Linked DNA regions of Homo sapiens: region 2 is linked to region 1. The links come from fine-mapping of genetic effects on gene expression. Tissue or cell type: testis. Region 1 holds a variant in brackets; the other region holds the start of a gene. All regions are shown on one strand. Distances are between the middles of the regions.

What was found. PIP is the estimated chance that this variant, and not a neighbour inherited with it, causes the effect.
Region 2: it holds the start of ATP6V1B2, and the variant in region 1 is fine-mapped to the expression of ATP6V1B2 in testis (GTEx, PIP above 0.99).

What each region holds. Positions count from the first base shown.
Region 1 is chr8:20,232,436-20,240,542 of GRCh38, forward strand. No RefSeq gene overlaps it. Among named protein-coding and RNA genes, the nearest start is that of ATP6V1B2, 39 kb to the left of the region's middle. RefSeq lists enhancers at 1,759-2,268, 2,269-2,778. The variant G/T (reference allele first, on the strand shown) is at 3,958.
Region 2 is chr8:20,194,181-20,202,269 of GRCh38, forward strand. It overlaps ATP6V1B2 (ATPase H+ transporting V1 subunit B2), which reads left to right and starts at 3,201. Exons shown (of 14, transcript NM_001693.4): 1 at 3,201-3,362. The coding sequence starts at 3,227. RefSeq lists a silencer at 2,975-3,254.

The DNA.
Region 1 (8,107 bases):
ACTGGGCTCTAAGTCGGCTCACAGGACAGCTTTTAATAGTTTCTGCTACCTCATGGCAAAGCCCAAAGGCTGACCTAATTCTTCCCAGCACAGTGCACAGGCAGAGGAGAGACAGCGATTATGCAGGAGGGCAGCCTCCTTCCTGCCCCAGAGGCCCTGGCCCCAAGCACGCCAGCGTTTTTGTCTTCTCCCAAATAAGTCATACTGGAAAGCTCTCTTGCCCTAGATTTAGGAGAGCAAATATCAGGAGGGTGCTACTTCTTTGGTCACAATCCAGCCGGGCGTGGTGGCTCATTCCTGTAATCCCAGCACTTTGGGAGGCTGAGGCAGGTGGATCACTTGAGGTCAGGAGTTTGAGACCAGCCTGGCCAACGTGGTGAAATCCCGTCTCTCTTAAAAATACAAAAATTAGCTGGACATGGTGGCGCACGCCTGTAATCCCAGCTACTTGGGAGGCTGAGGCACAAGAATTGCTTGAACCCAGGAGACAGAGGTTGCAGTGAGCCGAGGTCAGACCGCTGCACTCCAGCCTTGGTGACAGAGCGAGATTCTGTCTTCAAAACAAACAAATCCTACTCTACACTTAAGTCCAGGTTGAGTAGTGTCCCCTGCCAAAAACTATGTATTTAAATCCTAACCCCCCAGTACCCAGAATGTGACCTTATTTGGAACTAGGGTCATTGTAGATATTAGTTAAGATGAGGTCACACTGAAGTAGGGTGGGCCTCTAATCCAATATGACTGGTGTCCTTATTTAAAAGCGGCCATGGGAAGACAGACGCCCTGTGTGAAGATTGGAGTGATGCAGTTACAAGCCAAGGAATGCTGAAGGTTGCCAGCAAACCACTGGAATCTGGGAGAGCTGCAGGAAATAGATTCTCCCTCACAGCCTGCAGGAGGAACCAACCTTGCTGACACTTTGATTTTCAGACTTCCAGAACTGTGAGAGAATATATTTCAGTTGTTGAAACCACCTGGCCTGTGGTTCTTGGTTACAGTAGCCCACCCGAGCAAAGGAATATAGTTCCTATTCCAATGCCTTCTCTTCAGAGCCACGGGGCCTTCCCTGCGGCACGTCAGGACTGATGTCCCTGAGGGGCCCAGAAAGGCATAAGGAGCAGGTAGCAGCCCCAGAAGGCCTTTCCCTGTGGGCTCTAGAGTCTCAGGGGCACAGCTCTGTCCCCTCCAAGGAGAAGCTCTGGAGAAGGCAGCCCTGGGCATCACCCCCAGGTGGCAGCTTTGCATGTCCGAGCCCACCTTCCCCCACTCTGGCTGGGCCTGTAGACCCAAGGCTCCGGGTGCCAGTGCTGGGGGTTTGTTCACTGGTGGTCGAATGTCCAGAGCACTCACTCAGCGAACATTGAATTTCAGGCTGTCTTGCTCAGCCTAGGAGCTGTTTAGATTGGCCTTGTTTTATCTCAGCCGAGATAGATCTGCCCCACTAGGGCCCTAAAAGAGGCAGGTAGCCCAAGAGGTAATGTGGTCACGGCTGAGAAGGGACAGATAAAGGGGTTGGAGGGAGGAAGAAAGAAGGAAGCCATCCCTTCTTGAGCAAGGTCTGAGCATCAGGAGGCCTGGAGGGGGCTACCTGGTGTTTTTCTCTCACCTGACCTTACCCCTTTTTTGGGGGGACAGGTGCCAGGACTTAACCCTTTCTAGAGGTCTTAGCGAGGAAAGAGTACGTTGAATATTATTGACAGGTGTTTTACATACACTTTCTCATGCCCACCCTGTAACGACTGATTCCTGTTTCACAGATGAGAAAACTGAGGTTTGGGCTAGATAACCAAAGTCCGACGGCACGCTAGGTCTCACCACCAGTCTCCATAGCTGCTCCTGCTCCGTCTGGTTCCCAAACCCCAGCTTTTAGAACAGAATCCTCCTGTTTATGGTGTTGGTCTTGACTTCTCTTGTGGAGAAGCTCTGGATTTTAAGGTGGAGCCTCATGGGTGACCCTAGAGCAGCCAGCTGGGACTCTCTGTCACAGGGGAGCCTGGCGCTAAGCATCTTTATCACCAAGGTCACTGCTGATCATTATCAAAACCACCAAATGTCCCATCCTCCTCCTGCGACCTGCCCAACAGCCTGGGGCTCCTGTAAGTGAGCTGCTGTTAAACAAAGGGCTGCTCGTGCCGCCCTCCCCCCACCCAGGGCCCAGCGGGGACAGCAGGTATCTAAGCAAATGGGAGCGGAACCGCAGCTGCCACCCAGCACATTAAACACTCTGTTTTCTTAATTCCCCCTCCCTGCTAAGTGCTGATTACCGGGTCTGCCTGGGGCCTGATCCTTCCAGCCACCTGACTTCAGCCAGTGGGGCATCCAGAGAACGAGAGCAGCTGGCAGGTCGCACTTCAGGCGGGGCAGCAGATGCAAGACACTGATTATTCTGGGAGGGCTGCACCCAGGGACCGGCATTTGCACTTCAAAGGGGGACGGGCCCCTGTGCCCCACTCTTGGGACCTGGGTCTATTCTGGGGAAAATCATGTTGCTTTGAGTGAGTTACCCACCCGGGCCCCACCCCCTTCTTAACAGAGGGCGGTTTAAACAACCTCTCGGAGTTCACGAGCACTCGCTAGACACTCCCCGGGACCCTCCCCCGTCTGGCAGCTCTCCTTTTCATGGGGTTTGCCCCTGTCTGGACGGAGCAGGAGGGACTCGGGCGTTTAGCAAGTCCCAAACCTGTGCTTGCACTCTTGAATCTCAGTCCTCCCAGTGCCCCTTTTAACGGATTGAATTGTGTCCCCGCAAAAGACATGTTGATGTCCTAACTCCCAGGATTTCAGAATGTGACCTTGTTTGGAAATAGGGTCATTGCAGATGTAATTAGTTAAGAGGAAGTGACTCTTAATCCAATAGGACTGGTGTCCTTATAAGAAGAGAGACCCAGAGGGGGAAACACCGCATAAAGACACAGAGACAGGGAAGAGATAGCCATGCAGACAGAGGCGAAGATGGGAGTGATGTGAATACAAGCCAAGGAACACCTGGGGCCACCAGAAGCTGAAAGAGGCGAGGAAGAAATCTCCCCTGGAGCCTTCTGGGGGAACGGAGCCCTGGACCAAACACCTCGATCTTGAACTCTCAGCCCCTGGAACTGGGAGAGAATTAATTACTGTTGTTATAAGCCACGTGGTCTGTGTAACTCATTATGGCAGCCCTAGGAAACTGACAGACCCCTGAACTTTGTGGCAAAGCATCACAAGGATCTCGCTATGGTGTGATGCCACCCTGAAGCATGGCTGCGATAACCAGCCCCAGGGCTCGCACCCCTCACCCACTCCCCATTTCCCTCCTCCACCCCCACTCCTTGTAATTAAGCCCCGAAGTGACTAAGGAGTAACCAGTGCCCTGAGACCCCATCCCTAGATGGACAGATTGGACTGGACGCAAAGACCACCCCTTCTCTCCCCACAGGGCAGGCGTTGCTGGCTTCCCTTCCTCTCAGGGCCTCTGAGAGATAACAGGGCCCGTCACTGTGCCTGCCCTTCAGGGAGACATAAAGCAGGAGGAACCCCATCTCATGCTAACCCTGCTCCCGGCTCCCCCCACCCCCAGGGTGCTGGGGGTCTTCACGGCCTCCGTGTGCCTCACTGGGCTGTGACAGGGAAAGCCCTCAGCTCTCATGGCCACCTCCCCCATGGTCGCAAGTCTTTCGTCTCTTCTCTCTGTCGAGTACGGTAGCCTAGAAACAGCCGCTTTCTCTGTCATTTACTGCCTAGAATGGCCTCACCAGGCAGCCCAAGTCCTTTCTGGATCACCATGACCCTGTGGGTAGGAGGAGCTGGGCCCCTGGAGGTCAAGGGGTTTGCTCAAGGCCAACTGGGAGAACTGGCCTCGAACTCCTAGGAAGTCTGACTCCCCATCCAGAGCCCTTCCTGCCCTCGTACTGAGCACCTCCGGGGGCCAGTGGGTGCTGGGTTGGCTTCTGGGGCCGATGCATTGAAGGGTAAGATGGG[G/T]CCACCTGTCAGGGGTCACCTACAGCTGAGCTGGCTCTCGGGCAACCCACAGAACAACTACAAGCAGCCACCTCCGCTCTAGCCCTCTTCCCTCACCAGCCCAGACTCTGGCTGGACGCCAAGGCACATGGGAGACATTCAAGCAAGGTTCCTTCTCCCCGACAGTTTGCTTCCTGGCGGCGAGTGTCCACAAATGTCTACACAGTTGGCTGTGGGGCAGGAGGAGGTGCGTGAATGTAGCCCATGCTGCAGCTTGGCCCGGGATGTGAGGTTTGGTTTTAGTGCCATCCATGGAGGGCTTGGGGGATGGGGACTGGTGAGAGACTCTGCCACATCCATTAGGCTTTGGTTTGTGGGGCAGGGTTCAGAGGCCGGGGGCGTGGCAATGATGAGTGCAGAGAAGAGGGGAGAGAAAGGAGGGCGTGGGGGGACTCGGGGGTGACCCGAATTCCCCTCTAGGGTGAGGCTTTCACTCCCCAGCTGTTGAGAGTGCAGAGCTGCGTCCCTCTTTGAGGCTTGCCCTGGCCCAGGCACACATCCATCCCAGCTTGGGGAGGGGGCCCAGGCACTGGCTGGGTGTGGGGTTGGAGTAAGGGTGGGGACGTCAAGGCCTAGCCCTCTCATCTCACCCCGGGTGAGGAGCAGCTGAGCCCTCCGTTGTGACTGCCCCGTGGTGAACTCACCTCTCTACCCATCCTTCTGACTTCTTTTCCCCAAGGTCTTCCCCAAGGTGTAGCCAGAAAAGCTTTCCTCAGACAGGTCTGCACCCGGAAACTTCTTCCCTCAGACAGGTCTGCGCCCGGAAACTTCTTCCCTCAGACAGGTCTGCGCCCTGAGTCCTCATCCGCATCACAGGCACTTCTGGGAGGTTAGCAGGTGCCCTGGTGCCCGTGGGGGTGGGGATAAAACGAAAGAATGGAAGGAAAGCAGCACCTTCCATATGCGGACACCCTTCAGCCCCTCCCACCCACATCCACACATCCACACACACACACACACACACACCCCTACCCTCATGTATACACACACACACAAATGCATACACACATATACATATACACACACAGGTATGCACATACATATACACATACCCACACGCACACTCACACCTACCCCCATGTATACACACATACACACAAATATTCATATATACACACACAGATGCACATATGTACACATACACACACACCTACCCCCATGTATACACACACACAAATACATACACACACATATACATATATATACACACATACACACAGATATGCACATATATACACATACACCATACAGGCACACCTACCCCCATTTATACACGCACACATACACATATACCTATACAGATATACACACACATACACACAGATACGCATGTACATACATGTACATACATACACCTACCCCCATGTATACACACATATACAAATACACACATACACACATACATATATATACACACAGATATACACATACATACACATACACTCTCACACCTGTCACCCCACACACATACATACACATATACATATACATACGTACACACATACACACAGATATATACACATATACACACAGATATGCACATAATACACATACACACACTCACACCTACCCCTATGTATACACACAGATACACACAATACATACACACATACACATATACATATATACGCATACACATTCACATACATACACTCAACCCACCCCATATATGCACACAATTTACATAAACATATGCATGCATAAACATATATATACATAGACTCACACCCACACATACACACATGCATGCACTTACATACGCACAGTCACACATATACATGCAGACATACACATGCATGCACACATACACTCACCCCCATATATACACATGCACACATACATAGAGTCACACATGCACAGCTATACATATACGCATACACACGTACACATGCACATACATACACACGTACATACACAGACACAAAACCACATGCATGCACACACACAGACACCTCTGAAGCCCTAAGTTTAAAAGACATCTAGAAGCTAGAGAAAAAGAGCAGTGTGTGTGTGTGTGTGTGTGTGTGTGTGTGTGTGTGTGTGTGTACAGGAAAAGCACATTTGCTTGATACGCTTTTTCCTTTTCTGATATAGCTATACCCTTTGGGAGTCTATAAGTAGGAAAATCCTCTATCAAACTATAATATTGTAAGGCAGCAGCAGGAAATTGGGCCTGAGCGCGTACACTGCTCTTGGGCTCAGGAAGCAGGGGGAGGCAGGGGGTAACCAGATTGGGTGGCGGGAGCGGGACTTTGAGTGGGGGACTTGCCTTTGGTTTTCTGCAGCATGAGTCTTGGGTGATGCCAGCTCTCCCTGGAGCTGGCCCATTGGCACGCCTGTGTCCTCTCCCACTTTCTAAGTATAGTCTTGGAGGCCCAGCCAGATGAAGGCTGGAGCCAGAATTTCCCTGGAAAGCATTTGCTTCACAAGGGAGGGGCCTGGGAAGCTGATGAAGGAGGCAGGTGAGGTTGACAGTGGGCAGTGGCGCTCAGGCCACTCCTTTCCTCTTTCCGAGGGGTGGGCGGGTCCCAGGCAACCCCCCTGCTCCAGCATGGCAGCAATCCAGGTGAGCAGAGCAGGCCAAGCACCTCCCAGCTCAGATGGGTGTTTTTCAGGGGCCAGAAGAAACGGTGGCCTAGGAGAGCTGGGCCACTGTGATGCATAGTGTGGGAGGACAGCAAGGTGACCCTGACCACCACTGTGACTTCTGTCCACAGCTGTAGCAAGGCTGGGAGGAGGAGGCAACCCAGCAGCAGACCAAGAGCTTGTGCCTTGGCCACAGTCAGGCCTGGGGCTGCGACTATCCACTGTGCACAGGACAGTGTAGAATGCAGGGCTGCTGTGAGGGTTAAATGCAAGTGACAGGATTGAGAAGTCAGCCAGCACCCAGCCCAGTCAATTCCAGGGACTCCAGGGCACTTCCTTTCTATTTGGTATGGATAATACCCGCCACCCCCAGCTTGCTTTGCTGAGTCCCTGGAGTCTGCCTGGAAAACCAGTCAAGCAAAGGGAACCCTGGACCTTGAAACCCGCAGGCTATGTGTTCACGGCCCCCGCAACCCAAGAGGGGGCCATCTGAATGACGGGCCGTGGCAGGCAAATCGTCCTGTTATTTTTGGTGTAAGAAATTTAATTTGCTTCACCTGTCACTGATTACAACTGCTGTCATGAGCCTATTTACCTCTCAATTAGCTGTAATTGAGGCAGTGGGGGGCAAGGGGCAGAAGGAGAACGAGGTGGGGGGGCTGCATGTGTGCATGCTCGTGTGCATGTGTGTGTGTGTGTGCATGCGTATACGCTCAGGCTGGCACTATGTGGCAGAGCTGAGAGAGGGGGGAGAGGGAAAGAGGTGCCAAAGGTAGTGAATAAGGATTTTAACCAGTTCCATTTCGGCCGGGGGTTTTGGTCAGTGTCACAGTCACAGGGTGGCCCGGCCCAGCCCTTCACCACACCCCCCAGCAAATCCCTCCTTGTTCCTTTCTTTCCTCCGGCTGTGCCCTCGGTCCCAGGGGCATACCCCCATAAGGCAGCCTTCTGGTATTGAAACCTGGAGAGAAAAGGTTGCAGGGAGCTGGGGAGGTAGCTCATCAGAGTAAGATCTGTTGTTTCCACGGGGTAGAGCTTCGCCAGGCCAAGGGAGCTTGGGGCACCACTGTAACTCATCTTGGCTTGAAGCAGGGACATTTTGTTAACAAATACTAATAAGTATCATGTCACTAAATTGTGGTAGTCATAATAAACAGTAGCAATGCTTTAACTTTTATTGAGCATTATCTCATATAATTGTCAAAACAACCCTCTGAAGCCCAGAGAGTTTAAGCAATTTATTTATTTATGTATTTATTTATTTATTATTAGTATTAATTTTTGAGACAGAGTCTCGCTCTCTTGCCCAGGCTGGAGTGCAGTGGCGCGATCTCAGCTCACTGCAACCTCTGCCTCATGGGTTCAAGCGATTCTCCTGCCTCAGCCTCCTGAGTAGCTCGGTTTACAGGTGCGTGCCACCACGCCTGGCTAATTTTTGTATTTTTAGTAGAGATGGAGTTCTCAACATGTTGGTCAGGCTGTTCTCGAACTCCTGACCTCAAGTGATCCACCCACCTCAGCCTCC
Region 2 (8,089 bases), 38 kb before region 1:
TTTCTTCATTACTAGAGAAACTAAAACTTTTCTATATTTTCCTAAATGTATTTTTCTATGTATATAACACTTCATTTATCCTTTTCCTTCTTGCATATTAAGGGGATAATTTTTTTAAACCCAAGGAAAAGCATTTATATAATATTGCTATAAATAATTCTAAGAAACTCTGAATTTCAGTTGACTAACAGTTTTGGGTTACCTGCGCTTTGCACAGGTACCATCGTAAGATCCAAATAAATTACACAATTTTTAAAAATGTAGTTGTCTGAGAAGTTAGAGACGGTGTCAAGTGATACCAACTATCTGACACAACCATGTGGCAATTTGATTAAACACTTGTGATTCCATAAATGGCAATACCACTCTCCCAATTTGTCAGTGATGCTTACTTGGTGGTTTTCTTTAAGAGTTTCAGGCTCCTTTGACAATGTGATAGAAATCTGTGGGTTATTTCCACGGAAAATATCCATATGCACACATTTTGCACAACGTTTCACCGACTTCCTAGGGTGCCAAGTTAATAATCCCTGTTTTACAGCAATCTTGGACTTATCTCTATCATTGTTTTTTTCATTTGAAATATTTCTCCCAGCTGCACTGTGCTCCACATCCCCCTTGCCAATCCCCCATTCCATATCTGAGGTTACAGAATGGAAAAGTGCAGGAGAAAGATATAAATGGCCACTTTTTAATGATATCATTATTGCGATGAGCTCTGTGACAGAGCTAAGGCCAGCGTGCTATGTAGGAAAGCCATCATCTGGTTTGAGTCCATGTTGCTCACCCAGACAATCACAATAGCTTCCTAACTGGTCTCTCCATTTTTCTCTTGCCTTCTTCACCAGTTCATATTTTGCCCAGTAGAACAACATGCCTCTTTAAAGCCTAATCAGATCATATTCCTCCTTCATAAAATTCTACAATCACTCTAAGAATATAATTCGAACTGCTATCTGCATAGCCTCCAAAGCTGTACATGATCTGGCCCTGCCCTCTCTCCTGCTGCTCTCTGCTTAGCTGTGTCCATTCTAGCCCCACTTTCCTTCTTCTGCCTCAGGACCTTGGCACTTGCAAAACCCTCTGCCTATGCCACACATCTCTTAGAGCTTCCCATGATCTGCTTTCTCTCTCCATTCAGATCTCAGATGACTGAGAAGTGCATTCCCTGATCACATCATCTAAAATCTTATCTTCGTCTAGATCACTCTTTTCTCTTTATCTTGTTTTATTATTTTTCATCATACTTGACACTACCAGGCACTTTATTTACATGTTTGTTTTCTGACTTTCTCCCTCCAACAGGTATCAGGATGACAGAGTCTTTGTTTATTTACAAATATATCTCCAGGACTTAGATCAGCACCCGATACACATGTGCATTTTCTCAACAGATGTTTGTTAAATAAATGTTGGGGTTACCACTCTACGTATACACATTAGACCACAACTAATTTCTATTACCAGAGTAAAAAGTTAAAAACAGGTTTTTTTTAAAGTAAAAGCCATGAACTACTCCTAAAAGAATAACATAAAAATTGTAACAACTAACAGTCTGATATTCACATATGAAATTTACCTACCATTGTGAAAAATTGGCATGAGAAGACTAGATTTGTAATTTTTATTAAAAAAGTTGTTATGCATTGTATTTGAAAAAATCAGTACAAACACCTGTTAAAGCAGTGAAACTACATAGAAAGATTATTAAATTAAAAATAAAATTTCTCCTACTGTTCACATGTTAATCTACTTTACATGGCATTTTGCAATTGCTTTTTTATTTTAAACCTAATAATGTGTCTTGGACTTTTTTTAAAAAAAAAAACTCAACCCTTGAGCCTCCACTGAATTCTTTTCAAAAGTTTGAGAAATACCTTTGACTTAATAGGCTATAACTTATGAATGGGCATTTAGATTGTTTCTAGGTTTATGCTATTACAAAAATTTTTTTTGAATATCTGTGTGTATGTATATATACATGTATATGTCTGTAGACCATATATAATAATATATACCATATGGTGCATGACGTAATGTATTATATATAATGGAAAATATTTGTCACATACACTGAGTGGATAGATAGATACAGATATATCTACAGAGAGAGAGAACGATAAGTTCCTAGTACCAAAATATTTGAATGAGATATCACCAAATTGTTCTTCTAAATATCATACCAATTGTGCTCTTATCAGTAAAGTATTACAATTCCTGTTTAATTTTACACGTGCCAACTTTGGACATTAGTTAAACTTAAAAATTATAATCTTCTGGGTGCAGTGGCTAACGCCTGTAATCCCAACATTTTGGGATGCCAAGACGGCGGGATCAATTGATGTCAGGAGTTCGCGACCAGCCTGGCCAACATGGTAGAACCTCGTCTCTACTAAAAACAAAAATTAGCCGGGCGTGGCGGTGGGCACCTGTAATCCCAGCTACTTAGGAGGCTGAAGCAGGAGAATCGCTTGAACCCGGGAGGCGGAAGTTGCAGTAAGCCGTGATTACGCCACTGCACTCCAGTCTGGGCGACAGAATGAGACTCCCTCTCAAAAGAAGAAGAAGAAGAAGAAGAAGAATCCATTCCATTGCTCCGGCCTCCAGCCTGGGCTGTCATCCTACACTAGTCCCACCCCTTACACAGCTTCCAAATCTGCCCCTATTTTTCACACCGCTACGCACATCCTATAACAAGCCAATATATGTTTGTCGAATGGATACATGCGTGAACGAATTGGGTAGGGAGTAAAGTGAACTAAATGATGCCACATGTGTTAATAATCACTGAAACATGTTTTCCATTGCTTCTGTTTTTCAAAGCGGTTTTCACAGCTTGAGTTCTCTCCATTCAGCGTCACGAAAGCCCATTCGAAATGGATATCAGCTGACGTTGGCCTGCACGCGTTTGCCTTCCTCCCCTCACTCCGCTTGTGCGCCTCTCTTTCGGCTGGCTTTCCTCTCTCCTTCCATCTCCCCTCTTTCGCTTCCCTTCCCTCTGCGCCCGCGCGCGCCTCCCAGCACGCTGGTCAGCTCCTCTTGCTCGCAAGCAGGTCTGGCCCCAGCGGCGCGAAGTCACGAGGCTGGGGGCGGCCGGCGGCGAAGGGGGCGGGGCGAGGCCGGGGCGCCGCAGCGCGCATAGGCGGAGCCTCGGGCCGCGGGCCGCCTTGGTATATCTGCGCGTGCGCGGCGTCGCTGCTGGGCCAGTCGGGACAGAGGAGACAAGATGGCGCTGCGGGCGATGCGGGGGATTGTCAACGGGGCCGCACCCGAGCTACCCGTGCCCACCGGTGGGCCGGCGGTGGGAGCTCGGGAGCAGGCGCTGGCAGTCAGTCGGAACTACCTCTCCCAGCCTCGCCTCAGTGAGTATCAGAGAGTAATACGTCTCCGGTCTTTGCTCCCTAGCCTAGCCCTTTGCTCCCAGTCACCTGCTTAGCCAGCGGGTAGGGGGTAGGATTTGTTTTTCCCTCCCGCGTCTCCCCTCCGACCCTGACCCACTTGTCTCTTTAGAAGGAGATTTGCCTGTACCTAATATTTCCAGGAGATGGGCTGAGGGCAAGAGCACCAGCGGGAACTTTTTCCTGGGGTTGGTGGGCTCCTGGCTGTTGCCCTACCCCCTCCCCTCCCCAGCTTCCCTAGGCTGGAGCCTTCTTAGGCACTTGCTTCCCGTCCCCGAGGGCCACTTCTTGCCACTCCGATCTTAATCTTCCCCTGACTTCATTTGGATATCTAGGGGTCGAGGGAACGCCCCTTCTCCCCTCCCCCTGGTGAGGACCTCAATGGGGTCTTCAACTCCTGCGGAGGGCAGACGGTAGAGCCTTCGCTGACGTGGTCAGGCCTTTCGTGGATGGAGGTCAGGCCAGTAGCCAGAGGGAGATGTGGCTTGGTGTTTGGTGGAGGGGCTGCTCCGCAGAAGGACACCTAGATATCAGAGAACGCTAGAGCTGAAAAGTACCTTGCAGGTCATCCAGTCCAACCCTATCATTTTACAGGTGAGAAGCCTAAGGTTCTGGAAGGGGTAGGATTTGCCATGCTTCAGACACTTAATTATTGGCAGAGCAGGGACTAAAAATCCAGGTTCTTAAATTCTCGCTGGGCCTTTTTCTACCGTTGCCTCTTCATTTACTGACCAGTTAACCAAACTTGGTTGAGTGCAGGGTTCTTTGGGGAAGCCAGGTGGCTTTGCCCATAGGTGGTGTGTGTGCATAGGCTTGTTTAAATGTTGTGATTTTTTAAATAAAAAGGCCTTAATGAACTAGGTTTAAGTGGATAGCTCAGCAATTCCAAAAGAAATGGTTCTTGATTACTAGAGAATGCAGTTGTGTAGCATCCAACTTCTTCACAGCTTTCTTCGGAACTGGCAATGAGCCCTCGAAATAGACTTTTTAAAAAACTGGGAAAAGCACATGATGTTTCCCCAGGTGGTGAGACTGCATTTTCACTGGTTAATTGCCAGAGTGTCTGTCTCTAGGTGGCCGACTGATTAAAAAGGATTTCAGATGAAGGGTGTTAGTCTGGGCGATCTGAAGCCTGACTAATCCACATCCTGATCTGTCACTGGGTCATGTGATAGCACTGCAGTGTGAAGAAAAAGGAAAACATTTGATTCGGTGGATTGCTGAGATGTGCCTTTTACAGTAACTGGGAATTGTTCGAATTAGAAAATGTATGTTGGGACTTATCTGAGCTGAAGTAGCTACTTCAGGAAATCGGCAGATGTTGCATTCTTATGCAAACCTTGGCAATAAATTTATACCTACGAATTACAAATTCTCTTTTATTAATTGCGTTTGTATGCATTGCCTTTCTTTGGGTAGAACAGATAGACATTAGTGGTGCCTCTCAAAAAAGGTTATAAAGGTGCAGTAGTCAGTTTCCATATAATTAATCATTCAGTGTCAATTCAGAGAATATCAACTGAAATAACGTTGTTTAAAGAGTACTCCATGATTAAGATTGTAAACCTTTAAGAGAGATGAATATGATTTCTCCATGGTTTGTACGTACTTACCCAGTTGCTGAGGGATTTTTCCAGACGTTATTCTTGACAAAACTGTTGTAGCATAGGGCTTCACACTCAACTGTTAGATGTCAGGGATCCTTTTTATGTCCCCACTGCCTAGCACAGTGCCTGACACATAGAATGTGTCTTGTAATTGTGTAACTTGCATTTAAACTCCTTGCTCGAATAATTCAGTGGATAGATTGTGAACATGGGTGGAATCAGAGCAGGGAGTTGAAATGCCCGGTCGAGTTGAGTTTCACTTATATATCCGTGTTATTCTAAAAAGCATAAATGATATCATACTTAGGCTAACAACTAACAGCATTTGAATATCTTCTTATTTTGCCATATTTTTTATTCTACTCAAAAGTTTTAATTGCTTCTGAGTAAATATTGATTAACCTCTTAATTTTTGTGGGTTTTTTTTTTTTTTTTTTTTTTGAGATGGAGTCTCGCTCTGTCACCCAGGCTGGAGTGCAGAGTGGCGCGATCTAGGCTCGCTGCAACCTCCGCCTTCCAGATTCGAGCAATTCTCCTGCGTCAGCCTTTCGAGTAGCTGGGACTACGGGCGCACGCCGCCATGCCCGGCTAATTTTTTGTATTTTAGTAGAGACGGGATTTCACCGTGTTTCCCAGGCTGGTGGCGAACTCCTGAGCTCAGGCAATCCGCCTACCTAGGCCTCCCAAAGTGCTGGGATAACAGGCATGAGCCACCACGCCCAGCCAACCTCTTAATTTTTGTAAATTGATTGTAATTTTTTGTGAATTGATTGATGTTATCATTTAAGGGGACATGTAATTATAGTTATTGTGTGTGTGTGTGTGTGTGTGTGTTGAGACAGGGTCTCACTCTGTTGCCTAGGCTGGAGTGCAGTGGTGTGAGCTCAGGTCACTGCAACCTCCACATCTCAGGCTCAAGCGATCCTCCCACCTCAGCCTCTCAAGTATCTGGGACTACAGACGGACACCACTACGTCCAGCTAATTTTTTTTAATTTTTATTTTTTATTTTTGGTAGAGATGGGATTTCCCCATGTTGCCCAGGCTGGTCTACAACTCCTGAGCTCAAGAGATCCGCCCGCCATGGCCTCTCAAAGTGCTGGGATTACAGGTGTGAGCTGCTGTGCCCAGCCTAAAGCTTCACACTGAACCTTTAGAAGTCAGAGATCCTTTTTGTGTCCCCACTGCCTAGCACAGTGCCTGACACATAGAATGTGCCTTGTAATTGTGTAACTTGCATTTAAACTCAAAAAGCTTTGTTTTTTGAATGAAGAAATGGAGTAATGTTGACAGTTCCACTGTACAAATTAGATCCTTTTAAAAAATAGCTTCAAGATTATAGGACTTTTAAAAGAAATGGAAAACATATTCAGGCTTGAAATTAGGAAATTATCTTGAGCATTTTAGTTGAATTTCTGAAGTCACAAGGAATGAAAACTTGATTTTCTCTTAAAAGAAAAGATTCAACAACATACATAGAGCTTTCGGGTGCTATGTATTTTGAATTTGGTCATCTCCATTTTTCTTGAGACCCTAGATCAACTGGCCTTAAGTTTCTTATATCATAAAGCAGAGCCAGCCCTGCAAAAAGTCAAAATAGGAATCTTCTCCTTGCTTTTTTCCTAGAACCTCTTCTTCAGGTGCTCACTGCTCATCATGCAGATCTCTACTCTTCTTGTACAAGGGAAGATGATTGCTCTGGGTTTTTGTTTTGCTAATAAGGCAGAGGCTAAAAGACTAGGACACTTATTATGCAATGGCTGTCAACTTTTTCTGAGTATTTCGTAATCATTAAATGGTGTTACTAGTGTTGAGCAATATCCTATCCTGCAGGAGGAAGAGGATGTCATCTGATAAAATATGTGCTCCTTAAAACCCGTGTAGATTTTGGGTTTTAGATGTTACTTCATAAATACTTGTCTGGCTCATATGATAGTTCAGAATCAAAGCCAAGACATTTTGGTTGTAAAATATGTTAAGAAGGTAATATAAGCATATATCTTCTGTGTTGTCAGAAGTTCTGATTATCCCCCATTCACACACCTACGGGCTCAAATTCTTTTTCATTTGGAGAGGAGTGGTCAATATGTAGGTAAATAGAAATATTTAGGTAATTTACAAATGGGTTTTTTCCTGTTTTGAAGGGCAACTTAATGTCTTTGACAGCCATAGTTTAAACTGGTATCTCTGTTTTGGGCTGTTAATGGTAATGGTGAGGAAGGCTGGATAAATCTAGAGATAAAAGGTAGTGTTTGTTATCATTCTGCTTGGTTTTCTTTGCAGATAGTTTTAGTACCATGGAGAAGAGCTGTAGTTTTATACAAATTGTCTTTTTGTCCCCACTTGTAGTCCAAGTGCTAGAAGCTGTATGATCTCCATACTTTTTAATTGTACTGAAGACTAAGGCCAGAAATATTATAAGGGTCATAGAGTACCAATCCTAAGATTAAAGAAAAACAAAACAGTTAGAAGCCTGGCTCCCCCATTTAAAAACAAACTTATCAGGGCCTTAGTTTCCTTAGGGTGCATCAGCCTTGCCTACTGTCTTAGCCATTTTCTGCTCCTTTTAACAGAAAACCTGAAACTGGGTAATTTATAAAGAAAGGGAATTTATTTCTTAAAGTTCTGGAGTCTGGGAAGGCCAAAGTGGAGGGGCCGCATCTGGTGAGAGCCTTCTTTCTGGTGGGACTTGAAAGAGTCCCAGGGTGGTTCAGGGCATCACATGGTGAGGGGGCTGAGAATGCAGGGGCACTAGCTCAGGTCTCTCTTCCTTTTGTAAAGCCACCAGTTACCTTCACATGATAATTCATTAACCCATGAATGGATTCATCCATTCATAAGAGCAGAGCCCTCATGACCCATTCCCCTCTTAGAGGCCTCACCTGTCAGTACTGCCACATTGGGGATGAAGTTTATTGCCTGGTGCGTTAAAAAGTAAAAACCTGTTTTGCATACCTAAAATTGCAGGCTTGTGAAATTGTTTTGGGTGGTATCGCTTCATAATTCTTACAAGATACCATACCACAAAAAATGAACCAGTTCAGTTTTAGAATTTGGGCTGTAGTAGAGTCAAAGAATAAGTGGC